7 linked regions of the Homo sapiens genome follow. The protein of the gene in region 7 purifies or fractionates together with the protein of the main gene of each other region. This does not show direct contact. Each region holds a gene or a part of one and is shown on either strand. Other genes may lie near its edges. The genes, in order: TBC1D4, RBM25, DDX19B, PLXDC2, SRR, ITM2C and NRBP1.

Region 1 (4,184 bases), on a different chromosome or scaffold from region 7:
TTATGTCTCAGATATGTAGCCTAAGGAAATGGGATCTGTGTAACAGAGTTTCTGGGAAGGTTCTAGAAGGTCTCAGTCTACCTTCCAAGAACTTTTCATTGCTTCTTTGAAGACATGGGTCTTTTTGAACAAAGGTTTTTTAAGTGGTTCAACCAAATGACTTAACCTAATCAATTAGTAATGTCTCCATCTTGGAACTTAGATACCTATTAATAAGAGAGCCATCAGAGTGCAACCAGAAATTCAGCATAAGAACAATGGCAGTTGGTTATATTGATCTTAAATAAATAGAAGGGAAAAAGTGGTCCCAGGGCTTTATAAAAAGTGAGAACTCATTAAACTAAAAACCAAGAAACCCGAGTTTTCATTCTTCTTGTAAGCACTTAGGAGAAAGTCAGGAACTTCTGTGTCTTTCTTATTTATTTTGTCTTTACTTCTTACCCAATTCTTAATTATCATTCGGTATGAGTAAAAAGGGAGAATACTTGTCTACCTGTCTTAAAATTACAATGATCAAATTATTCCAAACTTTTTTTTAGTTCTTTGGAAATATGTATTACCACATATATATAAAAGAACAAGAAATCTCTACATTAGCTCTCAACTGGGGATATAACATAAATAAAACATAACTTTTCCATATTTTAAGAAGTTGGCTGCTTTAATAACTAGGAAGATTCAAGCTGTCGATATTATGTTTTAAAGTGAAATTTGGAACTGGAATTTATAATATTGTGATTGAAAACACGAGCGTTTTTTGAGATTATTAGGAAAGATAATTCAGAAATTAATGTGTAGGCTTTAGAAGGAACTGAAACCAAGCAAATACTGTTAAAAAAAAATCCCAGTTCTCCACTGCGAGTGGCCCCCTCTCTAGGGGGCAGCAGAGACGCCCGGGAGGAGACGGAGATCGCGGCGACTCAAGAGAGGCCAAGTGGGTCCGGGCAGTGCCCGCGCCAGGCTCTGAGCTGCAGCCCCAAGGGCGGGGGTCGAAGGAAGAGGCGAAGAGGCGGAGAGGCGGCTTCACGGATAAGCTTTTGCAGGCGACGCTCTCCGCCCGCCGGACGGGAGGCGGAGTAGCAGCCCGATTAAAGAAGCAGCCTGGAAGGAAGGAAGGAAGGAGCGAGGGAGGGACGGGAACGGCAGGAGGAGGAGCAGCGAGCTGGGCTGCAGCTGCGGCGGGAGGAGGAGCGGCCCCCGCGAGGCCACGTTTTGTTTTTGTTATTTTCCACTGGAGTAGTTGCCGGAGCCTTTCCTGAGGACTGACCGCGCCGCAGCCCTGCAGCCCCGACCTTCCAGGTGACAGCCGGTCACCCTGGTAGGAGTCAGCTCCGCCCCAAGTCACCCCCTCCCGCCCACAGCCCCATTCCCCGCCCAGCCACCCAGTGTCTGCCCCAGGCGAGCGCGGCGGCCGCAGCGGGGCTGCAGCGCTGGAGCCGGCGGCCGCGGGGACCCTCGGCGTGGTCCTCTGACCCTGCAAACCCGCGACGGAGGAAGGGGAGGTCCTGCCCGAGGCGCCAGCCCAAGGAGGAGGATGCCCATTTAACCCGCCCTCGCCTGCCGGGCGCTTGCCTCGGTGCCCGCCGCCGGAGCCTCCGAGCCGCGCCCGTGGAAGTGCTGCATGGGGCAGGGCTGCTGAAGCGCGGAGTTCGGGGTCGCGCCGCTCCCAGGCAGGCGCGGGAGCCCGGTGCGGCAGTTGGCACAGTTTCGGCGGCGCCTTCTGCGCGGGAGTGGGGGGCGCGGTGCGCCCGGCCGGCCTCCGCGGTGCCCTGGTGAGGCGAGAGTTATGGAGCCGCCCAGCTGCATTCAGGATGAGCCGTTCCCGCACCCCCTGGAGCCCGAGCCGGGCGTCTCAGCTCAGCCCGGCCCCGGGAAGCCAAGCGATAAGCGGTTCCGGCTGTGGTACGTTGGGGGGTCGTGCCTGGACCACAGGACCACGCTGCCTATGCTGCCCTGGCTCATGGCCGAGATCCGCAGGCGCAGCCAGAAGCCCGAGGCGGGCGGCTGCGGGGCGCCGGCGGCCCGAGAGGTGATCCTGGTGCTCAGCGCGCCCTTCCTGCGTTGCGTCCCCGCGCCGGGCGCTGGGGCCTCGGGGGGCACTAGTCCGTCGGCCACGCAGCCCAACCCGGCGGTATTCATCTTCGAGCACAAGGCGCAGCATATCTCGCGCTTCATCCACAACAGCCACGACCTCACCTACTTTGCCTACCTGATCAAGGCGCAGCCCGACGACCCCGAGTCGCAGATGGCCTGCCACGTTTTCCGCGCCACAGACCCCAGCCAGGCAAGACAGGGGCTCGGAGGCGCGGGGGCGGGCTCGGCCTTGGGGGATCGGGGAGCAGGGCGGGAGGGGCGGGGACCCCACTTTAAGGACCGACTGAGGTTTGGCTGCAGGCGCGCGCGCTCCACGTGGCGCGCTCAAGCGCCGGCTGGCCCCTTCCCTGGACCTTGGGAGTGGGAGAGAAGGCGTTCGGGGGCTGGGCGAGCGGCGGGAGCGGCCGGCCGGCTACAGCAGGGACCCGGAGGGAAAAGGACAACGGTCCCGGGATGGAGGGGGAGCTGGCGCGTCCAAGGAGCACGCGTGGAGGAGCGCCCGTCCCGGGAGGACGGCGGTGTCTGGGGTGTGACCGGAGATGGCTTGCTTGCCGTGTGTGTGTGTGTGTGTGTGTGTGTGTGCGTGCGTGTGCGCGCGAGCGCGTGTATGAACGCAGAAGGTTGGGTTCCTAGAGGTCCTCACTAGTTCTCAATCGCAGTCAAATCCTTAACCGGTTTGGCTGGTCGCGTCATCTTCGCAGCAGCACCTGCAGGTCTCCGGTCTGGGAGGCAATTTCCGAGCGGGGCTTAGGGAAAAGTTACTAGACATCGTCAGATTGTCTGCAAAGAAGGATTCTACATTTGGATATTGAATGGAAAGAAGCCCTTTTTTTGCGGTTTTTAAACACACTTATTGGAGGCAGTGTAGTAGAACAGGTTTCTAATATCATTTTTTAAATGTTTTTTTCACTTTTGTTTTTAATATTTTTTTTCCAGAGTCTTCTAAATCTAATTACCAAACAGTAAACTTTACTTCCTTAAAAACAGATATGGTCCTTATGGAACAGGGAGAGGAGAACTTGACTATGCAGTGATTGTGTCTTTGAAAACAGAGTTTTCCCCCTTTAATTTGTAATGAGTTTTCTCCCCGCCATATCAAAAGCTTCCAAAATGCTGTTTTAAAAATGGTTATTTACTGTTTGCACAGTACTTTAGGTTCTTTGGAAAAATAGTGTTGTCTAAATATAAATAAAGTCTCAGGTTGCACCATGTGGCTTTCTTTTGGTAACTGGGAAATTAATCGTAGTCAGATGAGAAAAACATCCTATAAATATGGCTTTAATTTTTTTTATTTCACAATTCTTCTGTCTGTAATTGAAAGACTTAGTTCAACAGTTTTCACAAAAGGCTTGTAGTTGAATTGAAGAAAATAATAGTTCATTGTCTTAGATTTCATCAGTTACTTTGAAAAATAGGTTTTTTTTTTTTGAGACGGAGTCTTGCTCTGTCGCCCAGGCTGGAGCGCAGTGGTGCGATCTCGGCTCACTGCAACCTCCACCTTCCGGGTTCAAGTGATTCTCGTGCCTCAGCCTCCCCAGTAGCTGGCATTACAGGCACCCAACAATCAGAACTCCTAATGTGAAGTTATGTTTATGGCATAACTGTTATGTTTATGGCAAAATATCGTACTAAAATTATTTCAAGATCCTAACCACGATTTAATGAATTTCATTTTGTGAACATTTGTTCAAAACTTATTTTTAGCTTTCACATATGTTAAAATTGGAAAGTTTCTGAAAGCTATTACATTTTATTGTATTACATTTTTCTGGTTCTGGTGGTAAAGAGGAGCCAGTTGCATTTTTCCAGGACTTTAAGGAACTTTTCATGACTCTCGGGGGTTTCTGTTAAAGTTATTTCCCCCCAGCGACATCTGATGCATGACACATTGTTGCTAATCTCATTGATGGTCCTGGCACCTTTAGTTCTCAACAGCTGCTGTTGAGTTCCTCTTGGTCTCATTGGTAGGAAGTCAATTATAAACATTCCTTTATTTTCCTCCATTATATATTTAAGCGTTAGAGGCTGAACTATATAAATATTAATATGTTTAGGCTCACTTCCCCCTTTTAGTCCAGTGGGAGCAGTGG
Region 2 (4,024 bases), on a different chromosome or scaffold from region 7:
AATACAAAAATTAGGAGAGGGGGTGGCTGCAGTAATGAGAGGCTGGTGCTGCAGCTCTTTTCCTGCAGTCCAGCCAAGGAAGCGTGCGTCCCTGGCGCTTCCTTCTCTTTGGACAGAGAGCTTGGGATGTGGTAATGCCAGCCAGACTTCTCAGAGCCATGGTCAGATCTACCGTACACTGGCAAAAGCACATCAGTGCCAAAGAATTGGTCATCTAATGTTAAAACCACTAAAGGAATTTGAAAATACAACATGCGGCACACTGACAATACGTCAAAACTTGGATTTGTTCCTTCCTGATAATACAGCTGGTAGTCTGAATAAGTCTCAGATCCTGTAAATGAACCAAAAAAAAAAAAAAAAAATCAAATACAAGCATTGTCTCTCCATTAAATGCTGCTCACTGCCAAGACGAAAAGGCACACCTTCCAACCATGAAATCCTTTGGTACTCACAAGAGAGTGACCCACAAACCAAATCTATTGGGGTCTAAATGGTTTATAAAAATATTAAAGAGGCATTTCTCATCTGTATCAATGGAAACATTTGTTCCAAAACAAGGCTTTCCACATATCAAGAGACCACTAAAGCATCCAGGACCAAGCAGCCATCTAGGACCAACCTTCCAGTTCTGTCTGTGAACGAGGTAAAGTTGGGGTGGTCGTAGCTCATGTGCTTAGTGATCACTGCTCACGCTAAACCAGTGTGCGCTGCACCCCAGCCTTACCGCCAACTTAAGAAACTGGCAGTCAACTCAGACTGCTCCATCAAGATCTTTGAAGCCTAATAAATATCCAAAGAGATTCAAAATCTTAATTTTTAAGAATTAATGATACATATAAAAACAAAATACAGGCCGGGCGCGGTGGCTCACACCTGTAATCCCAGCACTTTGGGAGGCCGAAGCGGGTGGATCACGAGGTCAGGACATCGAGACCACGGTGAAACCCCGTCTCTACTAAAAATACAAAAAAAAAAAAAATTAGCTGGGTGCGGTGGCAGGCGCCTGTAGTCCCAGCTACTAGGGAGGCTGAGGCAGGAGAATGGCGTGAACCTGGGAGGCGGAGCTTGCAGTGAGCCAAGATCGCGCCACTGCACTCCAGCCTGGGCAACAGAGCGAGACTCTGTTTCAAAAAAAAAAAAAAAAATACAGGCAATAAAACATGAAAAAAATACAAAAATTATCCAGGCGTGGTGGCACATGCCTGTAGTCCCAGCTCTTGGGAGGCTAAGGCAGGAGAATTGCTTGAACCCGGGAGGTGGAGGCTGCAGTGACCCGAGATCAAGCCACTGCACTCCAGCCTGGTGACAGAGCAAGACTGCCTCAAAAATAATAAAATAATAATAATGCAGTAAATTATTATAATACGGACATATTTATTTAACCAACATTAACAGTTGGCTCCACTTTCAGCTCTCACAAATAATGTTGAACATTCCTGGAGATAATAGACATATAACTGTATGCATCTGTACAGGTAATTCTCTAATACAGGTTAGAACTATATGTATCTGATTAGCTGGGTGTGATGGCAGGTGCCTGTAGTCCCAGCTACTCAGGAGGCTGAGGCAGGAGAATCGCTTGAACCTGGGAGGCGGAGGTTGCAGTGAGCCGAGACGGTGCCATTGCACGTCAGCCTGGGCGACAGAGCAAGAATCCACATCAAAAAAAAAAAAAAAAAAAATTATATGTATCCAAACTTTACCTCCAAAATCATCCCTGAAAACTAGCATATAAATGTATATTCCCACCACCAGAATATGGGTATGCCCTTTCCTCATATCCTCATCATTGGTAGAATAGATCAGTGTCAAAATTCTCACAATTTCATAAGTAAAATATACTCTTATTTCAATTTACATTTCCCTCATGACTAATGAGGTTGAGTATGCGTTTACCTGTTTACTAGACATTTCTTTAAAACAGAAAAGCATGACCTACATGCTCACAGCTCTACTTCCTCAGAATTCCTTTGACTTAAATTGGGATAATACCATATTCAATAAAACTAAACTTCAATTTCAGAAAACACAGTATACTTAAAATATTTAGAAAACTTTATAGGTAAAGGAATCCCTAGGATGCATTTTTTTTTTTTTTTTTTTGAGATGGAGTCTTGCTCTGTCACCCAGGAGTGCAGAGGCACCATCTCAGCTCACTGAAACCTCCGCCTGTCGGGTTCAAGCGATTCTCCTGCCTCAGCCTCCCAAGTAGCTAGGATTACAGGTGCACACCACAAGGCACGCACGACCAAGCTCAGCTAATTTTTGTATTTTTAGTAGAGACGGGGTTTCACCATGTATGGCCAGGCTGGTCTCAAACTCCTGGCCTCAAGTGATCCGTCGGCCTCGGCCTCCCAAAGTGCTGGGATTACAGGTATAAGCCACTGCGCCCAGCCCTTAGGAGGATTTAATATACTTGGCAAATGAGGTATTAGAAATGTTTTAAACAGTAGGTAGGTTATCAGTACATATTAACAATGAAAAACACAAGATTGCAAGACTGTAAATGTGTTGAGTTTTAAAATAAACTTTCTGTAAAACTTTTTGACCAAAACCAAAAACTGGGGGTGGTATCTCTTTTTAAAACAGAAAGGGCTACTGTCCTACTTACAGAAGCTCTTCTATTATCATTATAATAGCCTATCTCAGTGCTTTCTTAGGATAGTTGGTTTTCATACCTGTTGAATAAACTGATTAATGAATAAATCAGTAAACAAACTCTGAGGACTTCAATAAACAAATTTATTATGCTATCTCATGCCGCATACTATATTCTAGCAATGGCCCAGTGCCTAGCCTCACAATGGTTACAAGACTGGGCCATGAACTCATTTTTAAAACCACTTTTCCCCCAATAATATTAGATATAAATAATGCTTAAAAACTAAAACTCTCGGTCAGGGGCGGTGGCTCACACCTGTAATCCCAGCACTTTGGGAGGCCAAGGCGGGCAGATCACTGGAGGTCAGGAGTTCGAGACCAGCCTGGCCAAAATGGTGAAACCCCTGTCTCCACTAAAAATATAAACACTGGGCTGGGTGAGGTGGCTCATGCCTGTAATCCCAGCACTTTGGGAGGCCAAGGCAGGCAGATCACAAGGTCAGGAGATCAAGACCATCCTGGCCAACACGGCGAAACCCCGTATCTAATACAAAAAGTTATCCAGGCATGGTAGTGTGCGCCTGTAGTCCCAGCTACTCAGGAGGCTGAGGCAGGGGAATTGCTTGAACCTGGGTGGCAGGGGTTGCAGTGAGCCAAGACTGCGCCACTGCACTCCACCTTGGCGACAGAGCAAGACTCAGTTTCAAAAAAAAAAAAAATTAGCTGGGCACAGTGGCTCACCCCTGTAATCCCAGCACTTTGGGAGGCCGAGGCAGACCGATCACTTGAGGTCAGGAGTTGGAGACCAGCCCGGCCAACATGGTGAAACCCCGTCTCTACTAAAATACAAAAACTAGCTGGGTGTGGTGGCGGGTGCCTGTAATCCCAGCTACTCAAGAGGCAAAGGCAGGAGATCACTTGAACTCGGGAGGCCGAGGTTGCAGTGAGCCGAGATCGCGCCACTGCACTCTAGCCTGGGTGACACAGTGAGACTCTGTCTCAAAAGAAAACAAACAAACAAACAAACAAAATTAGCCAGGTGTGGTGGTGCGCACCTGTAATCCCAGCTACTCTGGAAGGTGAGGCAGGAGAATTGCTTGAACCTGGGAGGCAGATGTTGCAGTGAGCCGAGGTCGCGCCACTGCACTCCAACCTGAACGACAGAGTAAGACTCCGTCTAAAAAAAAAAAAAAAGTAAAACTCTATATTCTTGGTATTTAAGTTATATTTTATGGTTTTTAAATGTGTAATTCATTCTGCAGAGTTAACCAGATATATTTAATTTTCGTTTATGCCAATATACCCATTCCATTCACTTCAAATTTTTCCATAACATATTCCCCTTTATTTGGAGCTGCCAAAACTTGCTTGTTGATAGGCTGGACTTCAAAGGTGAAGGCAAAAATACCAGTTAACAGCT
Region 3 (4,024 bases), on a different chromosome or scaffold from region 7:
GCGCCACTGCACTCCAGCCTGGGCGACAGAGTGAGACTCTGTCTCAAAAAATAAATACATAAAAATTTAAAAAATAATAATTAAAAAAACAAAAAACCTCTCAGAACTACTTGAAACACATATTTATCTCTACGTTGACTAATGATGTGTTTTTTTTCTAAGTGTATATTGTGCCTTGAGATATTGGCTAATAAAAATATGAAGCCAGCACACACAAGCACAGGAAAGCATTATTTCATTTTTATCTCAGCCTTTATTACTTTTTTATTTGCTTTACAATGTACATAATATATTTAATAAAACAGTAAAGTATGCAATTTCTAAATAGATATTTACATATTGAGAGTGAATGATCAAAAGTTTCTTTGCAACAAATAACAAACTACACAGTTCATTTACTCAGTTAACAATGCCTGCCAGGTTAGGCATGAGAAATGCTCAAATGGATAAGGACCACAGTTAAGGGAGGGGATGCCATAATGAAAACAGAAGCATTAAGTGGAAGCAGGTATTCTGGGTCCTGAGACCTCCCTCACCCTTTCCTCCACCTAGATTCCAGAACACTGAGTCAGACCTCCACCATCTAGGCAGGAGTTTAGAGGATCCCTCTCTGCAAAATCTGGCCAGACCGGGAGGAAAGTTCTCAGGATGCTGACATAGACCACTAAAGATATATAGTTAAGGTCAGAATAGACAAGCCCCACTCATGTGTTTACAGCTTCCACTCAACTTTTTAGTCACTCACTCTTAAATATGAGTGGCCAAGCAAGGATTACAGACATCTGAGAAACAGTCATCACAAAAAAGTAGACACTGAAATATATGGATAAAACACGCCTCACATGAAACAGAGACTGAGCAGAGAGAAGAAGAAAAATATCCTCCAAATGATGAGGATATTATGACCATGAAAGCCGTACAGGGTATTGTCTGTAAAAAAGGAACAGTAAAGGAAGAAGAAAAAAGTTCCTGAAATTAAAAATAAGAAAGTAGAAGTGAAAATGAAATATACCAGACAGTACTTGAGAAAATCTCCCAGGAAATATAGAAAGAAAGAAAGAAAAAAAAAAGAGACAAAGATGAAAAACAGAAGAAAAAAGAAAACCAAAGGACTTTTAAACGAATGGTGCTGGAACAATTAAGACAGCTCTGGCCAGGAGTGGTGGTTCACGCCTGTAATCCCAGCACTTTGGGAGGCCAAGGCGGATGGATCACCTGAGGTCAGGGGTTTGAGACCAGCCTGGCCAACATGGTGAAACCCTGTCTCTACTAAAAATACCAAAAGTAGCCAGGCTTGGTGGCAGGCGCCTGTAATCCCAGCTACTCGGGGGACTAAGGCAGGAGAATCGCTTGAACCTGGGAGGTGGAGGTTGCAGTGAGCTGAGATCACGCCACTGCACTCCAACCTGGGGGACAAGAGCAAGACTTTGTCTCAAAAAAAAAAAAAAAAAGACATCTCTGTGAAAAAGATGAACAGATGAACCTCGGCCAGGCACGGTGGCTCACGCCTGTAATCAAGCACTTTGGGAGGCCGAGGCGGGCAGATCATGAGGTCAGCAGTTTGAGACCAGCCTGGCCAATATGGTGAAACCCTGTCTCTACTAAAAATACAAAAATTAGCTGGGCATAGTGGTGGGTGCCTGTAATCCCAGCTACTAGGGAAGCTGAGGCAGGAGAATTGCTTGAACCCCGGAGGCGAGGGGTTGCAGTGAGCTGAGATTGCGCCACTGCACTCCAGCCTGGGAGACAGAGCCAGACTCCGCCTCAAAAAAAAAAAGATGAACCTCAATGCATACCCCTTATTAGAAAAAATTTAACTCAAAATGGAAAATGGATTACAGACATAAATGTAAAATTTAAAACTATAAGACTTCTAGAGAACACAGGAGAAAATCTTTGTGGCCTTGGATAAGGTGTATATCTTGGAACACAAAAAGAACTAATCATCTAAAAATTGATAAATTAGGCCGGGCGCGGTGGCTCACGCCTGTAATCCCAGCACTTTGGGAGGCCGAGGTGGGCGGATCCCAAGATCGGGAGGTCGAGACCATCCTGGCTAACATGGTGAAACCCCATCTCTACTAAAAATACAAAAAAAAATTAGCCTGGCGTGGTGGTGGGCGCCTGTAGTCCCAGCTACTCGGGAGGCTGAGGCAGGAGAATGGCGTGAGCCTGAGAGGTGGAGCTTGCAGTGAGCCGAGATGGCACCACTGCACTCCAGCCCAGGCGACAGAGCAAGCCTCCGTCTCAAAAACAAACAAACAAACAAAAATTGATAAATTAGGTTAATCAAAGTTGAAAATGTCTATTATTTGAAAAGTACTGTTGAAAAAAGACAAGTTGTAGTTTGAGAGAATATATGCAAAACATATCCGATAAAGGACTTATCATGCCTGTAATCCATCTCAGCACTCTGGGAGGCCCAGGTGGGCGGATTGCTTGAACCCAGGTGTTCCAAGACCAGCCTGGGCAACATGGCAAAACCCTGTCTCTACAAAAAATACATACATTAGCCAGATGTGGTGGCGCATGCCTGTGGTCCCAGCTACTCTGGAGACAGGGTGGGAGAATCCCTTGAGCCCAGGAGGTGGAGGTTTCAGTGAGCCAAGATCATGCCACTGCACTCTAGCCTGACTCTAGTCTGGGTGACAGAGTGAGACCCTGTCTCAAAAAAAACAAAAACAAAAACAAAAAACAGAACTTCTATCCAGAATATATAAAGAAACTTCCCAACTAAAAACAAAAACAATCCTACTTTAAAAATGGGCAAAAGGTTTGAAAAGCCACTTCAAAGAAGTTACATACATGGCAAATAAGCACATGAAAAGATTGTCAACATCATTAGTCATTAGGGAGATATATAAGTTAAAACCACAATGAGACACCAGCATGTACCTATTAGAATGAAGGAAACTGACAATACTGTGCAGGGAAGGGTGTGGGGCAGTTGAAGCTCTCATCCATTGCTGTTGGAAAAGCAGAATGATACACTTTGGAAAATAGTTTGGCACATAACTTACAAAGTTAAACACATACGACATAACACAGTAAATCCTACTCTTTGATATTGACTTTACCCAAGAGAAATGCAAACATATGTCCATACAAAAATCTGTACCTTAATGTATAGAGTAGCTTTCTTCATATTGTCTCAGACTGAAAATTACTCAAGTGTCCATCAATAGAAGAATAAGCAAACTGTGTATATATATCCACAGTGGAATTCTACTCAGCAATAAAAAGGAATGAACTACTGATACATGCAACTTGGTTGAATTCTAAATGCATAATACTAAGTGGAAGAAGCCAGACTTTTCAAAAGGTTATATATTATATATATGATTCCATTTTATGACATGTTGGAAAAGGCAAAACTATAATGACAGAAAACATATCAGCAGCTGCCAGAGAAGGGTGAGGAGAGGGAGTGAACTACAAGAAGTTGTAGTTCTTTGTAGAGAGGGTTTATGTGTTGCCTGTGGTGGTAGTTACACAACTGTATGCTTTTGTCAAAATTCATAGAACTGTACACTAACAAAGTTTAATTTTACTCTGTGTAAATTATACCTCCATAAACCTGACTTTTAAAAAAATTAAAGGGCTGGCCAGGTGTGGTGGCTCACGCCTGTAATTCTAGGACTTTGGGAGGCTGAGGCATGCGGATCACTTGAGGTCAGGAGTTCAAGACCAGCCTGGCCAACATGGTGAAACCCCACCTCTACTAAAAATACAAAAAGTAGCCAGGCATGGTGGCACATGCCTGTAATCCCAGCTACTCGGGAGGCTGAGGCAGGAGAATCGCTTGAACTCAAGAAGCAGAGGTTGCAGTGAGCCAAGATCGTGCCATTGCACTCCAGCCTGGCGGACAAGAGCGAAACTTCATTTCAAAAAAAAAAAAAAAATTAAAGGGCCAGTCCAACAGATCCAACATTCATCTAATAAGAGTTCTGGGAAAAGCTATGCAGTGGTGCGCACCTGTAGTCCCAGCTACGAGGGAGGCTGAGGCAGGAGGATCACTTGAGCC
Region 4 (4,024 bases), on a different chromosome or scaffold from region 7:
GGCGGGTGCCTGTAGTCCCAGCTACTTGGGAAGCTGAGGCAGGAGAATGGCGTGAACCTGGGAGGCGGTGCTTGCAGTGAGCTGAGATCGCGCCACTGCACTCCAGACTGGGAGAAACAGCGAGACTCTGTCTCAAAAAAAAAAAGTAAGTAAACATCCAGAAAGAAACTAGCAGTATAGGAAAATAGTGGAATAAACTTTTTGAAAGTCCTATCTATCAACAGAAGGCTTAATGTAAATAACTGATATTAAAATAGGCAAAGTGCCTAAAAAAGACATTTCTCCAAAGAAGACAAAAAAAATGGCCAACAGGCATATGACATGGTCCTCAACATCACTAATCATTAGGGAAATACAAATCAAAATCACAATAAGGTATCATCTCACACCTACTAATATTAAGATGGCTATTGTCAAAAAGACAATAGATAGTAAGTGTGGGTGAGGATGTGGAGAAAAGGCAACCCTTATACACTGTTGGTGGGAATGTAAATTGGTAGAGCCATAAAAAGAACAATATGAAGTTGCTTCAAAAAATCAAAAATAAAACCACCATATGAGCTAGCAACCTCTCTTCTGTATATATACCTGAAGAAAATAAAACCAGAGCCTTTAAGAGGTATCTTCACTCCCATGTTAATTGAAGCATTATTCACAATAGCCAAGATATGACAACAACCTGAGTGTCCATTGATGAATAACTGGATATATATTCCACATACATTGCATATGTAGTGCATATACATTCCATATATAGTGCATATATATTATATATATTGCATATATAGTGCATATATTATATATATTGCATATATAGGGCATTTATATTATATATTGCATATGTAGTGCATATATATTATATATAGTGCATATATACTATATAGTGCATATATAGTGTATATACATTATATATTGCATATATAGTGCATATATATGCACAATGGAATATTATTTAGCTTTAAAAAAGAAGATCTTGCTATTTGTGATAGCATGGATGAATCTGGGGGACATTGTGCTAAGTAAAATAATTCAGACACGGAAATACAAATGCAATTTGCTTTCTCTTATACATAGAATAAGAAAATAAACAAGCATCATGTTGCACAGCTTAAATACATATTATTAAAAATGAAAACAAAGAATTTTTTTTAAAGGAATGTATAAAAGAAAAAAGATATGAGATTAAGAACATGAGTGAACATTCACTCAGAAACCAGCAGGATAGAAGAATGGTCGAATGAATTTTTTGAAAGTCCCACCTAATAGTAGAAGGATAGTTTAGCAGACTTCTGGATCTTATGCTTTGGTTTCAACAGTTACTCTCCAAAGTTCGTTTTAAATTTATTTCTATCCTAGGGATGGACAAAGTCTTAGCATGGGAATTATTTAAAAAGTCTCCCAACGTGGCATTCAAATTAATAATTCAGCTTGAACTATAGTTCTAGTCAGTTCAGTTCAGTCCAACAACCATTTATTGCAACTATTTATTGGTTGTTGCCACAGCAGATTCAGAAATAAATGACAACAGACCCTGACCTCAGGAATGTATGGTCTAGTCTAATAGAATACATGAGAGAGAGGTAGAAATGGAAAGAAAAGGAAACCCTACAATATCAAGCAAGTGCCTTTGAAGAAGGCATAAAGTGCACTGAGAATTCTAAGACAACACGTCCTTTTGTGGAGAGTGTCACTTGAGATAAATCTGCAGGAAAAATTGGAAAATGGATGGATGGAGACGCACTTAGAGAAGGAAGAGCAGGAGGAATGGCAGAAGTGGTAATGCATGGTACACACTCAGGGAACTTCAGCAGCTCATCTGGTGAGAGCTTTCAAGAACAGGCAGGGGAGAGAGGGTGGGAAAGTGCTTGAGGCCACAGGCAATGGCCTTGAAGACCATGGAGAAGAGACTGTATTAATGTGAGGAGAAAGTAGCTGAAGACTTCATTTATTTATTTGTTTGTTTACTTATTTTTATTTTTATTTTGAGGCAGGGTCTCCCTTTGTCGCCCATCCAGGCTGGAGTGCAATGGTGCAATCTCGGCTCGCTGCTATCTCCGCCTCCTGGGTTCAAGTGATTCTCCTGCCTCATCCTCCCAAGTATAGCCAGGATTATAGGGGTCTACCACCACACACGGCTAATTTTTGTATTTTTAGTAGAGGCGGGGTTTCACCATGCTGGCCAGGCTGGTCTGGAACTCCTCACCTCAGGTGATCCGCCCACCTCGGCCTCCCAAAGTGCTGGGATTACAGGCATGAGCTGCCGTGCCCAGCCTGCAGCTGAAGACTTTAGATCCCATGATCAAGGCTGTTGATCAACTCATTCCTCTTTAAAAACATAATGTTTCTGCAATAGGAGATAGCTTTTAGGAAAAAATGACAAAACTAATTGATAAGGACACATATTTTCTTTTCTTTTTTTTTTTTTTTGAGACGGAGTCTCGCTCTGTCGCCCAGGCCGGACTGCGGACTGCAGTGGCGCAATCTCGGCTCACTGCAAGCTCCGCTTCCCGGGTTCCCGCCATTCTCCTGCCTCAGCCTCCCGAGTAGCTGGGACTACAGGCGCCCGCCACCGCGCCCGGCTAATTTTTTTTTGTATTTTTAGTAGAGACGGGGTCTCACCTTGTTAGCCAGGATGGTCTCGATCTCCTGACCTCATGATCCACCCGCCTCGGCCTCCCAAAGTGCTGGGATTACAGGCGTGAGCCACCGCGCCCGGCCGGACACATATTTTCTACATACTCTGTGAGTATCTGATGCTTACAGTGAAGAAACCTGTCTGGAGCAAAATTATTATCTTTCATTATTAAGTTTTATTCAAATACATTCTCCCTGACAAGAGTTTATTTCTGAAGATCACACTGAAATGTGCAAATTCTCCTGATTATAATAATTCCAAACCTCTAGGCAGACATCCATGAACAACAACAACAAAAATTACCTTTGATATAAATGTTCTACACTACAATTATGTCTCAGTCCAAACTTACCCAACCTCAAGCTCCAAAACTTGTATCTGTTCTCTAAAGGAAAAAGAAACTCATATTTCATATTTTTAAAATTTTGCAGGTAGCCTCAAGTCATTGATTGATAAAATAATCAACCTGTCTTTTGTCCAACAATATGACAGATGTCCATTTTACAATAAATGTTCACTTGAATTAACCCCTCTATTATATCACTGTGCTCTAGGTTTATATGTAAACAGAAACTTTAGTGATTATGTCTCAACAGCAACACTCTCATAACAAACTCTACAAATGAGTAATATTTCAAAGTAAATTGTTTAACTCCAACAAAAGCAGGAAATAACAGAAAAATATTCAACCAGAGAAGAACAACTAAAATAAGTGTAAATTATATGATAAACATAAACTACTTCCCTCTAAAACAGAAAAGGGAATAATAGAGGAAATTAGCAGTTTATCTGCCCTCTGGTGGCAATGAAATCAACTGCAGCATTTACTAAAGTAACGCATAATAAAATGTCCCTGTTATGAAATCAGATGTTGTTCCTGTGCCAACATGTCTGTAATAAAGATCCTGATTGTTGCATGACAAACGTCAAGACTGCTGGACTTTTCCCCCCATACTGAATTTTTATATAGACTATTTTACAAATAAAGTTGTATACTTTTTTCTGTTTCACCTTGCTTTTTTTATATATTCAGTAAGCTAACCATTTAATTACAATATTTTTTTCATAAAACTACATGTAAATGATGTCCAGGAAAGAAGCTACTTCTGTTTATAAAAGTCTTCGAAAATTTGGCAAGGAATTTAAAACCATTCTTTTAAAAATCAATCCTATCAATATATGGGTTTCTAGAGTATATTTCCCATCAGAAATATTCAACTAGCTTAAAATACCAGTACACTGATGTTGAACATTTTAAGTATTTTATATTTCCCACAGCAAGGGCTTTTAATTATATGGCCAATCTTACTTTGGGATGAATTTCATCCTCAATTTCTGAACTTCTTGGCATAGCAAATGTGTGTGTATTGTGTGTGTGTGTGTGTGTGT
Region 5 (4,024 bases), on a different chromosome or scaffold from region 7:
GTGAATTCACATATTTGATTAAAACATTGTTTTGGAAAGCAAGGAGCTTTTCTAGATTTTCTATCCTTAACATGCACATCCAATCTGTCACCAAATCTTATCGATTTACCTCTTAAATATCTCATGTGCATCTTTATTTTTTATTTTTTTGAGATGGAGTCTCCGTTATCCCGGCTGGAGTGCAGTGCCACGATCTCGGCTTACTGCAACGTCCGCCTCCCCACACTGCGTCTACCCCCAGGGCCGGGTTCAAGTGATTTTCCTGCCTCAGCCTCCCAAGTAGCTGGGATTATAGGCACCTGCCACCATGCCCGGCTAAATTTTTTTTTTTTATTTTTTTAGACCTAGTCTCGCTCTGTTGTAGCCCGGGCTGCAGTGCAGTGGCGCGATCTCGGCTCACTGCAAGCTCCGCCTCCCGGGTTCACGCCATTCTCCTGCCTCAGCTTCTCGAGTAGCCGGGTCTGCAGGCGCCCGCCACCACGCCCGGCTAATTTTTTTGTATTTTTAGTAGCGACGGGGTTTCCCCGTGTTAGCCAGGATGGTCTCGATCTTTTGACCTCGTTATCCGCCTGCCTCAGCCTCCCAAAGTGCTGGGATTACAGGCGTGAGCCACCGCACCCGGCCTTTTTTTTTTTTTTTTTTTTTTCCCCCGAGATGGAGTCTTCCTCTATCACCCATGGTGGAGTGCAATGGCGTGATCTCAACTCACTGCAACCTCTGCCTTCTGGGTTCAAGCAATTCTCCTGCCTCAGCCTCCCAAGCAGCTGGGATTACAGGTGCCTGGCACCAAGTCCCGCTCATTTTGTATTTTTAGTAGAAAGTGTTTCACCAAGGCTGGGTGCGGTGACTCATGCCAGTAATCCCAGCACTTTGGGAGGCAGAGGCGGGCGGATCACAAGGTCAGATCAAGAACATCCTGGCTAACACGGTGAAACCCTGTCTCTACTAAAAATTCAAAAAAAAAAAAAAAAAAATTAGCTGGGCGTGGTGGCAGGCGCCTGTAGTCCCAGGTAATCGGGTGGCTGAGGCAGGAGAATGGCGTGAACCTGGGAGGTGGAGCTTACAGTGAGCCGAGATCGTGCCACTGCACTCCAGCCTGGGGGACAGAGTGAGACTCCGTCTCAAAACAAAACAAAACAAAACAAAAAAGCGTTTCATCATGTTGGTCAGGCTGGTGTCGAACTCCTGACCTCAGGTGATCCACCTGCCTCAGCCTCCCAAAGTGCTGGGATTACAAGTGTGAACCACTGCGCCTGTCATATATTTGTATTTTTTGTAGACAGAGTTTTGCCGTGTGGCCCAGGCTTAGATCTTTTATATTGATAATGTATCCATGTGTAGCAAGTTGATACAGTGAATGCTTAAACTTGGGTCATATACAGAGTGATAACACTTTCCAATTTGCCTGCAACAGTTCAGGTGTCTGTTTAGATATTTCAGGTTGCTTCTTTCAGTCCCAAACATGTCCTAGTTTGGATAATAAATTATGTCTTAGTTTGGACAGTAAGTGATGGTATATATAATAAAGTCATGCTTTGCTTAAGGATGGGGATATGTTTCGAGAAATGCATGATTTGGCAATTTCATCATCTTGCATGCACCATAGAGTGTACTTATACAAATCCAGCTGTTACAGCCTATTACTCCTAGGCTGCAAACCCTGTATAGCATGTTACTGTACTGAATACTGTAGGCAGCTATAACACAATGAGAAGTATTTCTGTATCTAAACACAGAAATCGTACAGTAAATGTGTGGTATAACCTTATGGGACCAAGGACCACCATCATATAGGTGGTCTGTCATTGACTGAAACGTTATGTGGCATATGACTGTATTTTATGTATATATTATATATATGCACATACATATATATAAAAATTACTCGGATAAGTTATATATATTATCCTAATTATAAGGATTTATGACTGTGTAAAAGTTGCTTATCAACACTATGATGCTAGGTAAAACAAGGACTTGAAAGGAAAATTTCTGTAACCTTTTTTCCAGCTGTATAAAGGCATTAATTTACTTCTGCCTATCTCATTGGGTGGTCAGGAGAATCAAACTGATATGTGAAAGGGTGTGAAAACATACATGATACACTGAGAAAAAGGATTGTTACCTTAAAAGATCCTGTTTTCTGGAAGAGTTCACATTTGAAGAAAAGATTGCGCCCTGTTAGTTGATTCAAAATGGAGCTTGTTAGCACTGGTGTGAGGTGGATAGAATCTCGAATGTTGATATGAGCTTTTTCAACATCAGCAAAGGAGATGCAATACTGAGCACACATGGTTCTGAAACCCAGGAATAAGAAAGGGGTCAAAGCAAAGTCTGAGACAGTATGTTTATTGAAGAGATTTTGAAAATACGTAACAGAATAGACCTGGGGCCTGTGGTGTCATGTGGAAATTCTCCATTATTGGAGTGTCAGAATTTCCCTAAAAGAGAGTTGACTTAAAAGCTGAACGAAGTTTTTCTGGTGAAGCTTTGAGGGAAGTAACTGATGGTGATTACAGAAGGCTAAAGCCCACTCCCCACCCACACCACCCATCTCTTGGCACTGTTGGCACTGCCACTGGTCTCCATCTTCCTTTTTTTTTTTTTTTTTTTGAGACGGAGTCTCGCTCTGTAGCCCAGGCTGGAGTGCAGTGGCACAATCTCGGCTCACTGCAACCTCCGCCTCCCGGGTCAAGCAATTCTCCTGCCTCAGCCTCCCGAGTAGCTGGGATTACAGGAATGTGCCATCGTGCCCAGCTAATTTTTATATTTTTAGTAGACACGGGGTTTCACCATGTTGTCCAGGCTGGTCTTGAACTTCTGACCTCGTGATCCGCCTGCCTCGGCCTCCCAAAGTGCTGGGATTACAGGTGTAAGCCACCGTGCCCAGCTCCACCTTTCTTTTAATCATCGTTGTGAAGCTACTTGAATGAATTGGATTCAATTTTTATATTATTTTTAATTTATAAATTTAAATTTTTAATTTTTAATAAAAATTTAACAAATTATTTGATAAAGAAAAAATAGCTAGACTATTCCATTTAAATAACTATGTTCATTTTCTTTATTTCCCTCTGCATTTTCTTTTTTTTTGTTTTTTGAGATGGTGTTTCACTCCTGTTGTCCCGGCTGGAGTGCACTGGTGCAGTCCTGGCTCACCACAACCTCCACATCCCAGGTTCAAGCGATTCTCCTGCTTCAGCCTCCCGAGTAGCTGAGATTACAGGCATGCACCACCATGCCCAGCTAATTTTTTTTTTTTTTTTTTTTTGAGACAGAGTCTCGCTCTGTCACCCAGGCTGGAGTGCAGTGGCGCGATCTCGGCTCACTGCAAGCTCCGCCTCCCGGGTTCACGCCATTCTCCTGCCTCAGCCTCCCTGGTAGCTGGGACTACAGGCACCTGCCACCATGCCTGGCTAATTTTTTGTATTTTTAGTAAAGACGGGGTTTCACCGTGTTAGCCAGGATAGTCTCAATCTCCTGACCTCGTGATCCGCCTGCCTCGGCCTCCCAAAGTGCTGGGATTACAGGCGTGAGCCACCAAACCCGGCCAATTTTGTATTTTTAATAGAGACGGGGTTTCTCCATGTTGTGCAGGCTGGTCTCGAACTCCCGACCTCAGGTGATCCGCCTGCCTCAGACTCCCAAAGTGCTGGGATTATAGGCGTGAGTCACTGCGCCCGGCTCCTTCTGCATTCTCAATATACATTATGTAACAGTTAAAGCAAACATTTTATTTGCTCCTACATTTGACTCAGTTTCTTTACAATTTTCATAATTTTCAATAACTACATTAAGCTTCCACTTTCCACTGTGTCTATTGTAGCAGTTAAATATGAAGTTTCTCTATTTTTCCTTATTACAAAAGAATCTATATTCATTAGAAAACTGAGTTAATCTGAAAATACAGAGATACAAAAAGAACATGAAAATAGCCACGAAACCTTCCTACCTAAAGACAGTTGCTATCCAGTGGTTTACCTTTCCAGGCCCAACTACATATGCAGACAAAACTCTTTGGTAG
Region 6 (4,024 bases), about 200 Mb from region 7:
TGGGCCTCAGTTTCCCCATCAGTAAAGCATGATGATCCCTAAGGTCCCTTCTGGCCTCCAAGTCCTTGAGTCGGTGACTGGGAAAAGGGGTGGCCCAGCAGGACTAGGACCTGGCCACCTCCGTGCCCTCCACAGAGGTGCAGACACCAGAGAAAGAGCCTGGGGTTGGCAGGGGGTCAAGGACGAACCTAAGAGTTGGGCACCTACGCCTGTGCACGACTGCCTTTCCTGTCACCTGCTGTCCTGGCCTGCAGACCTGGAGGGGCCTAACACGGCGGGTGGGGAGGTGGAGCTGGAGGCAACACTGTTAAGAGTCTTGTGCCCCTATCACGGTTACCTCCACATCCAGCCTCGGACAAGTGCCATCGCCCTTCCTGGATATCCCTGACCCCTGTCTTGGAGAAACCTTGACAGACACTGTGTCTGGTGGGCCAGTCCAGTCACTCCATCAGTAAGGGAGGCCAGGCAGCCTGGTGTGATCCCATCAACTGAATGGCCGGGCGGGCCAGTCTGCCCACTCTTACTTCTGGAGGGGGCTCCTGGAGGGGCCTGTAGATACATGCTTGGGACTGCCTGGCCTGGGATCGGCAGGATTCCACCGTCTGTTTGATTCAGTGCAAGTTCTCCAGGGAGGATGCGTCATCGCAGCATGGGGGGCTCCTGTGGGCTGTGCGGGGATGAGAGCCCAGGGAAGGTGAGGCTCCGGGGCTGCATCCCACAGTGGCTGGACACCCCGAATACTGTCCCAGGGCACAGACCCAGGGGCTGCTGGGAGGTGTCCACACAACGAATTGGGGTGTGGGGAGAAGGGTGTGAGTCGAGGGTGGAACAGAGGGGACCAGGAAATGCTGGCCCAGGTCCTAGGGTAGGGCCACAACAGGAAGAGGCCTGTGGGAAGGTCCCACACAGGACCCTGGAACGAGGGGGACGCAGGCCATGGAGGGAGTGGGGCGGGGCAGGGGGATGCTGCACAGAAAGGAAGGTGATGGGTGTATGTGAGCTGAGCTTTCAAGGGGAAAGCCCCGTGAATGCAAACTCTTCAGCAATTTCCATCGTGGAAAAACTGGGGGACAACAAAGTTAAACGCTTAGGAGTGGGAGGTCACTTGGGTCATAAATGACTGGCAAGTCCCACCTCTTTGTCACCCTGAGGTTCTCTGTGAGTTGTACGTAGGTTTATCCTTTTAATTTACCTACTTTCATTTCCAAGCACACAGCGACACTCCCTCCCTCCCAGGTCTGGGTTGGCCCAGCTTTGTGCCCAGGTCCCCCGGGGAGGGGGATGATAGTTGGCAGCAAGGACACACTCCTGCTTCTGGAAGGAGGTGGTGGAGACTCTCTGTACCCACCCCTCTCCCTCTCTTGTTTGGTAACCCAAATGTCCATGCACAAGCACAGTTAGGTCAGCCTTAAAGCGTGACCTGCAGGTGCAGGGTCTGAGCTGTGGAGGGGGATCACAGTTCCAGTTTCTGCCAGATCTGAGTTTCTGGTGAGAATTCCCCAGGGTGACCCTGTGGGGCGGGCCCAGTGCTGTCACCCGGATTCATGCTTGGCTCCCCAGGACAAGGGGCTAAATGTGGGACTGGCCTGCATCCAAGGAGGCCCCAAGGAGGAGGGGGCACCCCAGTCTTGTGGGCTGGCCGGGCACTCGCTCCCACCTGAGGGCATGTCTGGGGCTTCCTGCTGCCCCCTTGCAGACACTTCCCTCCATGCCTCTCTAGACATGACCCTTTCTCGAGGCCTTGCCCCTACCTGGCCCGGCCCCTCACCTGCGCAAGGAAGAAGTATCTGTAGATGTAGACAGAGGCGAACACGAGGCCCATGAGCAGCACGACCATGCCCATCGACAGGTAGCACACGCCGCCCACTGAGCCCCCCCTCTTGGATCGATGTTGTGGGGGCTGCTCCTCCTGTGGATAGCAATGCTGGGTCAGTGGGGGCCAGGGCCCCTCCCCTGGAAATCCCCCCTTCCCTAAGTCAGGCTTCACCTGCTGGCTGGGCCCGGAGGGAGTCTTGGGGGAAAGGGAGGGAAGGAGATGACACCTAGAAGGGAAAGGAAGGCCCACCAGGGTCACCCGGACTCGTCCTGGCTAAAGAGAAACCGAGACAAACCTCGAAAGAGAAAAGGAGACACACCTCGAAAGAGAAACCAAGACACACCTGGAAGCCACCGAAAGAGATGCAGTGGGTTCAGCAGGTGCATTTTGAGTTATCTGAGCTCTTAGGCCTCTTGCTTATACCAGCCGTGACCGTGGTATATTCTTTCAAACAGAAGATAGGGGATGTGCCGACCTGGCCTCGGTGACTTTAGGGACTTAGAAATCTCTGTAGGAATTGAGACACACCAGGCAGGCTGGGAGCTGCTGCTCTGGACGATGGGGAGCCCGGGAAGGCTTTTGAGCTGGGGAGTGACAAGATCCACTCTAAAACCAAGGTGCAGAGGGTAGACTAAAATGAGGACAATAGGAGGTGGGCAGGCTGTGTAAAGGCTGCTCAACTCCACCAAGGAGGCTGTGACTGATGGGGGCAGGGGCTCCAGGAGCCCCATGGGGTCTGGGCATGGGTGCTTGTCCCCAGCCAGGGAGCTCTAGGCCTGTGATCCACACTGGCCCCCCACAGGCACCGACCGGCAGTCAAGCAGGCTGTTACAAGTGGTGTAACAGCTACAGGATGAAGCCCGGAAGCTTCCATCCACCAGGGAGCTCCTGCCAGGAGAGAAATGTGGCTGTCCGGAAGGCCAGGCTAGAAGGATCCTGGAAAAATCTGCTCTGGGAGCCAGAATTGGGCTCAAGATCATAGCTGCAGGGCTGCCAAGAAGCCAACCTAACCCATCTCCAGGCCACACATGTGTGGGGTGGTGGACGTAGGTGTGTGAGTATAAAATTCAACAAAACTGCTTTACCCAGAGCACTGACGAGAGCCAGCCAGGTGAGCTTGGTCAATTTCCTGTCTCTTCTCCTCCCTACCTCCTATGCCTTCCCCCGGGCCCTTGCTCACCCTTGGAGATAATGCAAAAGCCCCGGGGCCAGTCTCTGCCTCCAATGTTCACCATTTAATCCTTCCTCCGTGGTGTCCACATACGGCCAAGAGTGAGGTTAGAGGTCAGTCCCTGCGGACTGCCGCAGTATTGGGGAGAGGAGGGGATCCAGCCCCAGAGCCTGAAGCTTCTCATTCTGGCTCTGCCACTACCTGCCTGCTTAGCACTTTCTGGGCCTCGGCTTCCCCATCTGCAAAATGAGCAGGTCAGACCAAGTGACCTCTCAGGCCCTTTCCGGCCAGGCGTTCTGGGATGGGAACAGATTTCCTTTCTCCCTTCCCCCTGGAGGGGGGTGGTTCAGGCCTAAGTGACTCAGGACAGGCCCTATCTCTCAGCACAGCACAGGGGTCCTGCCCTGGGGGCGCCTGCTTCGCTCCTCAGGTTTCACCTCCCACCCTTTTAGAGCACAGGGGAGTGTGGGGCCTGGGCCCTGGGGAGCTGAGGGTCTGACCCGCCCTGCTTAGGAAAAGGACAGAAAATGTCTGGAGGACCCCCCCTTCACTGCGGACATGCGTGAGCAGGTCAGCAGGCCCCCAGCATCCTCACCATGGGGTGCCCCTGCCTGTCCTGCACCCTCACACTCAAGTCTGCCCGCAAGGGAGCCTGCTGGGTGGGTGTGGGAGGTCAAACCACTGCCCGCACTGCCTGGCCCATGAGGAGGCCGGGGCCTCTCCCCACCTTGCCCTGCTTTAGGGGTCCCGTGATCATATGGACCACCTGCCCACTGTCATCTCCTCAGCAGCCAGGGGCACTAACCAAGGTCACCAGCAAGTGACGGGCATGGCCACAGTGCACAGGGCCCTCAGGAACAGCTGCTGGCCACAGGGGGTTGGGACTAAATGGCTTTGGTTTTCCAATGGACTCCCGGGAGCAGCAAGAGACGGGGGTGACACCTTCCGTTGGCATCTCCCAGGGATCGAACCACCCAGGAGCTCTTGCAAACCAGGCACCAGGGATGCCCTCCTGCCCCTCTGGCGCTCCTGAGCAG
Region 7 (4,024 bases):
TCCCTTCAAAAAGGTGTAAGATTATATATCCTACCCCCTCTCCACTAATTAACTGGCCTCTCCTATTAATTACTCCTAGCAAGGTCCTTTCTCTTCTCACCAGCCCACACCTCAGAATTTTGCTCTGTTATCCCCCATTCCTTTCATCTTACCCCCATGGTTCCCAAATTCCCGAGGCTCCCCTGCCCAGAACCTCTCCCTCCCCTCACCAGAGCCAATCTTGATGAGTCCGTTGTGCTGGATGAAGATGGTGTCACAGGTCAGGTTCCCATGGATGATGGGGGGGTCACAGGAGTGCAGGTAGCTGTGGGGGCACTGGGCTGTTAGAGGGGCCACTGGGAAATTAAGGGCAGGGGGAACCCAAGGGTTAAGAGGAGCAAGGGCCAGGTCTCCTGCTGGTCACCATAAAGATAATCCCCACACTCTGAATCTCCATTATGCCTGATGATTTAAATAGCTGGATAAGCACTAGGAGAAAGAGGTAGGAGATAAGTGTCGTGGTTAGGGCATTAGGACGCACCCTTTAAAAGACCCGTAGGGGCCCTAATCTTGACAGTATATGATTCAAAGAAAGTGGGGAGAGGCAGAATAGAACAGAAGAGTAGTGCCCTGAAATCTGTTTGGAGTAACTACATCAGGAAATATGGGTAAGAAACTAACCAGGTACTACTTACCTTAGGGCAGAGAGGATTTGTGTGCACCAACGCTTCCATGCCTGGAACAAAGTTGGATCCAAGGGTCAGCAGTAATTCCCTCTCTTAACTCTCTCCCACTAGCTCCTTCCGTCCCTTCCTGATCAGCTTCATTATTAACAGAGTCCTTTTTAAAACCACCCCCAAAAACCAGCCTCAAACTTTGTCTGCTCTCCTTCTATACCTTTTCATTCATCGTCTTGTGGTTCTTTTTGGTCTTCTTCAGAAATTGCTTCAGACTCCCAGATGACATGTATTCTGTGATAAAAATGACCTGGGGAGGCAAAGCACTTACTAAAAGGCCTTATAGTAGAAATGATCCCTTCCCTTGTTAACATATTTTAAATTTGAAGGTTTGTTAAAATTTCTCTCCTTTTGTTCTTAGCTTTACTTACTTAGACTAAATAGGGCAATGAAAACAAGCAATGAAAGTTATGGGAAGAAAGAAGCAAAAGTTCACTCATTTTCTGCCCAATCTATAGCCACACAAAAGGCATAGGTGACAACTGAAGCCCTACTCTTATCGCCATTGCAGCTGATTCCAGTTCTGTTTCAAAACTACCTTGTTTTAATCTCTGAGTGTAAAAGGAACAATAATAAATGTAGCTAGTCTCTTTGCAATAAGTTCAGGAAATATGGGGAAAAAATTCTTACCCTGGCCTTGTTCTCTTTAATGTCAGCCCAATATTTGTGAAACTTAACAATGTTAAGATGCTCCAATTGAATCAGATTATCAAACACAGCACGAACCTTTTCCTGAAAGCAAGGGAGACAGTGGAATAACAGAGTCACAAATCACTGTAATAATCCTGAGAAGCCATTCCCTATCCCTCCCCAGAAACGATCTAACCCCAACATACTCTCCTCACGGGCAGCTTCCCAACACCAATTCCTCTCTAACATCAGTGTTCCAACATTCCCCAGGCTTCACCTTTTCAGCATCACCTACCTCCTGCAGCTTGTAGTTCTTGCGTTCAGAGAACTGTACCTCATTCCACACAACCTCTACACCTTCCTCTGTATCCATGGCCAGGTATGCACTGTCAATACCTGGTACATTCCGTTGATTCACCTGAGAAGAAATTCATATGAAAGAGAATTAAACTTATCTCACAAATCCTCCATTTTAACACTCCATATGATCATCTCCTCCTAGCCCCCAACCTATTGAAGTTTGGTTGGCCTCTTTTAAGACTTTGCTCTTCCAGTTCTCACCTTTCCAGAATTCACTCACCCAAGAGTAACTGTACCATAACCTTACCTCTTCTCGCCTCTTCTGCCAGCGCCCACAGGGCGACTCTTCCAAAATCTCAGACTCATCTTCACTTTCTTCTTCTTCCTCTGGGGAAGCAGCTGAGGTTGTGGAGGTCACAGGAGGTGACACTGATGTCAGGCCAGGAGCTGAAGATGAGGATTCTACCTTTGGGTCTGAGCCACTGCTAAGTACTGTCTGGGACTCCCCCTCCGACATGCTGGAAGGAACACTCAGGCCTGCACTGGTTGGGGCAAATACAGAGGGAAAAGGCAGAGAAAGTCAGGATACATCTGTAAAGATTTAGTAATCCAGGCTGGACGTGGTGGCTCATGCCTGTAATCCCAGCACTTTGGGAGGCTGAGGTGGGCAGATCACCTGAGGTCAGGAGTTCAAGACCAGCCTGATCAACATGGTGAAACCCCATCTCTACTAAAAATACAAAATTAGCTGGGTGTGGTGACGCGTGCCTGTAGTCCTAGCTACTCAGGAGACTAAGGCAGGAGAATTTTTTTGAACCAGGGAGGTGGAGGTTGCAGTGAGCTGAGATCACGCCACTGCACTCCAGCCTGGGTGACAGAGCAAGACCCCATCTCAAAAAAAAATTTAGTAATCCAGCTGAGCACAGTGGCTCACCTCTGTAATCCCAGCACTTTGAGAAGCCGAGGCAAGAGGTTCATTTGAGGCCAGGTGTTTGAGACCAGCCTGGGCAACAAAGTGAGACCCCATCTTTACAAAAAAATTTAAAAATTAGCAGGGCAAGGTGGTACACAGCTATAGTCCCAGCTACCCGAGAGGCTGATGGGAGAATCACTTGATTGCCCAGGAGTTTGAGGCTGCAGTGAGCTATGATCATGCCATTGGCTAGGCAACAGAGGGAGACCCTGTCTCAACAAAAAACAAACAAACAAAAAAAAAGATTTAATAATCCTAATACTTATCTGCAAATTCAAAAGAAAATAAAACAGGCCAGGCATTTGAGACCAGCCTGGACAACATAAAAAGACCCCAGTCTCTACACAAAACTTTTAAAAATTAAAAATAGAAAACACACACCACCTTTGTTTCCTTTAAATCCAAAATCAGAATCAGTCCTAAATACTGAAACATTAACTATTCTCCTAACTCTAGTCTAGAAAAGGGGAGCTATCTTAGTTGAAGATGACCCTCCCAGGAATGACAAACACAAGATTTATGGCAGTCTAATCCCACTTAGAGTAAGGTTCAAATCACCAGCAAAATCAGGTGCTCCATTCCTTCTTGGCAAATACTCATCCAATAGGCTTCCCTTTGAATCCCCAAGTACACCCTATTTTTACTGTGCTCAAGAATTAAGCTATGTGTGGACGGGCACAGTGGCTCACGCCTTTAATCCCAACACTTTGGGAGGCCGAGGTAGGTGGATTACCTGAGGTCAGGAGTTCGAGACCAGCCTGACCAACATGGCAAAACCCTGTCTCTACTAAAAATAAAAAAATTAGCTGGGTGTGGTGGCACGCACCTGTAGTCCCAGCTACTCAGGAGGCTGAGGCAGGAGAATCACTTGAACCCGGGAGGCAGAGGTTGCAGTGAGCTGAGATCGTGCCACTGCACTCCAGCTTGGGCAACAGAGTGAGACTCTGTCTCAAAAAATAAAAAAATATAAACTATGTGGGCGCTATTCAGAACAGATGACTCCAGACTCCAAAATGTTTCAGTGAGACAGCCTTAAGGCTAGACCTGTAGCACCCTCAGCCAACTTATCCAGCTGAAACCCTTGGCTAATTTATCCAGCTAGAACTAACCTTGGCATTCACTATCCATCCCTTCTCTACACAGAACAAGCCCACTAGTCCATGGTGAGGCTACCCTTGGGGCACATGACTGGCAGTTGTTAGTGACTTCATCCCTGATGACCTCACCTTTCCTGTGATGTGAGTGTGACAAATGGGTATTGGTTAACAACATTTTTTTTTTCATTCACTCATTTAACAGATGTTTTATTAAGCATTTATTGTGGGCCAAGCACTGGGCTAAGTCCTTGAGATACAATAACAAACAAAATAAATGCCCACATTCAAGCAGCCACAAATTCAAGCCA

The links.
Region 1: the proteins of NRBP1 (region 7) and TBC1D4 purify together in Homo sapiens (co-immunoprecipitation; 2 studies listed by BioGRID and IntAct, with this or other methods). This does not show direct contact.
Region 2: the proteins of NRBP1 (region 7) and RBM25 purify together in Homo sapiens (affinity purification with mass spectrometry; one large-scale study listed by BioGRID and IntAct). This does not show direct contact.
Region 3: the proteins of NRBP1 (region 7) and DDX19B purify together in Homo sapiens (affinity purification with mass spectrometry; one large-scale study listed by BioGRID and IntAct). This does not show direct contact.
Region 4: the proteins of NRBP1 (region 7) and PLXDC2 purify together in Homo sapiens (co-immunoprecipitation; 2 studies listed by BioGRID and IntAct, with this or other methods). This does not show direct contact.
Region 5: the proteins of NRBP1 (region 7) and SRR purify together in Homo sapiens (co-immunoprecipitation; one large-scale study listed by IntAct). This does not show direct contact.
Region 6: the proteins of NRBP1 (region 7) and ITM2C purify together in Homo sapiens (affinity purification with western blotting; one study listed by BioGRID). This does not show direct contact.

The regions. Positions count from the first base shown.
Region 1 is NC_000013.11:75,479,370-75,483,553, reverse strand, and holds the start of TBC1D4 (TBC1 domain family member 4), read left to right. Parts: upstream 1-1,384; 5' UTR 1,385-1,786; coding exon 1,787-2,284; intron 2,285-4,184.
Region 2 is NC_000014.9:73,064,729-73,068,752, reverse strand, and holds part of RBM25 (RNA-binding protein 25), read right to left. Parts: intron 3,782-4,024; exon of another isoform or gene 3,660-3,781; intron 1-3,659. UniProt on the Homo sapiens protein: RNA-binding protein that acts as a regulator of alternative pre-mRNA splicing. Involved in apoptotic cell death through the regulation of the apoptotic factor BCL2L1 isoform expression.
Region 3 is NC_000016.10:70,301,800-70,305,823, reverse strand, and holds part of DDX19B (ATP-dependent RNA helicase DDX19B), read right to left. Parts: intron 1-4,024. UniProt on the Homo sapiens protein: ATP-dependent RNA helicase involved in mRNA export from the nucleus.
Region 4 is NC_000010.11:19,819,044-19,823,067, reverse strand, and holds part of PLXDC2 (plexin domain-containing protein 2 isoform 1 precursor), read right to left. Parts: intron 1-4,024. UniProt on the Homo sapiens protein: May play a role in tumor angiogenesis.
Region 5 is NC_000017.11:2,313,830-2,317,853, reverse strand, and holds part of SRR (serine racemase), read right to left. Parts: intron 2,298-4,024; 5' UTR 2,294-2,297; coding exon 2,126-2,293; intron 1-2,125. UniProt on the Homo sapiens protein: Catalyzes the synthesis of D-serine from L-serine. D-serine is a key coagonist with glutamate at NMDA receptors. Has dehydratase activity towards both L-serine and D-serine.
Region 6 is NC_000002.12:230,871,302-230,875,325, reverse strand, and holds part of ITM2C (integral membrane protein 2C), read right to left. Parts: intron 1,910-4,024; coding exon 1,769-1,909; intron 1-1,768. UniProt on the Homo sapiens protein: Negative regulator of amyloid-beta peptide production. May inhibit the processing of APP by blocking its access to alpha- and beta-secretase.
Region 7 is NC_000002.12:27,431,413-27,435,436, reverse strand, and holds part of NRBP1 (nuclear receptor-binding protein), read right to left. Parts: intron 2,189-4,024; exon of another isoform or gene 2,184-2,188; 5' UTR 2,164-2,183; coding exon 1,954-2,163; intron 1,765-1,953; coding exon 1,642-1,764; intron 1,449-1,641; coding exon 1,347-1,448; intron 967-1,346; coding exon 877-966; intron 716-876; coding exon 675-715; intron 305-674; coding exon 210-304; intron 1-209. UniProt on the Homo sapiens protein: Required for embryonic development. Plays a role in intestinal epithelial cell fate and proliferation, thereby involved in the architectural development of the intestine potentially via the regulation of Wnt-responsive genes.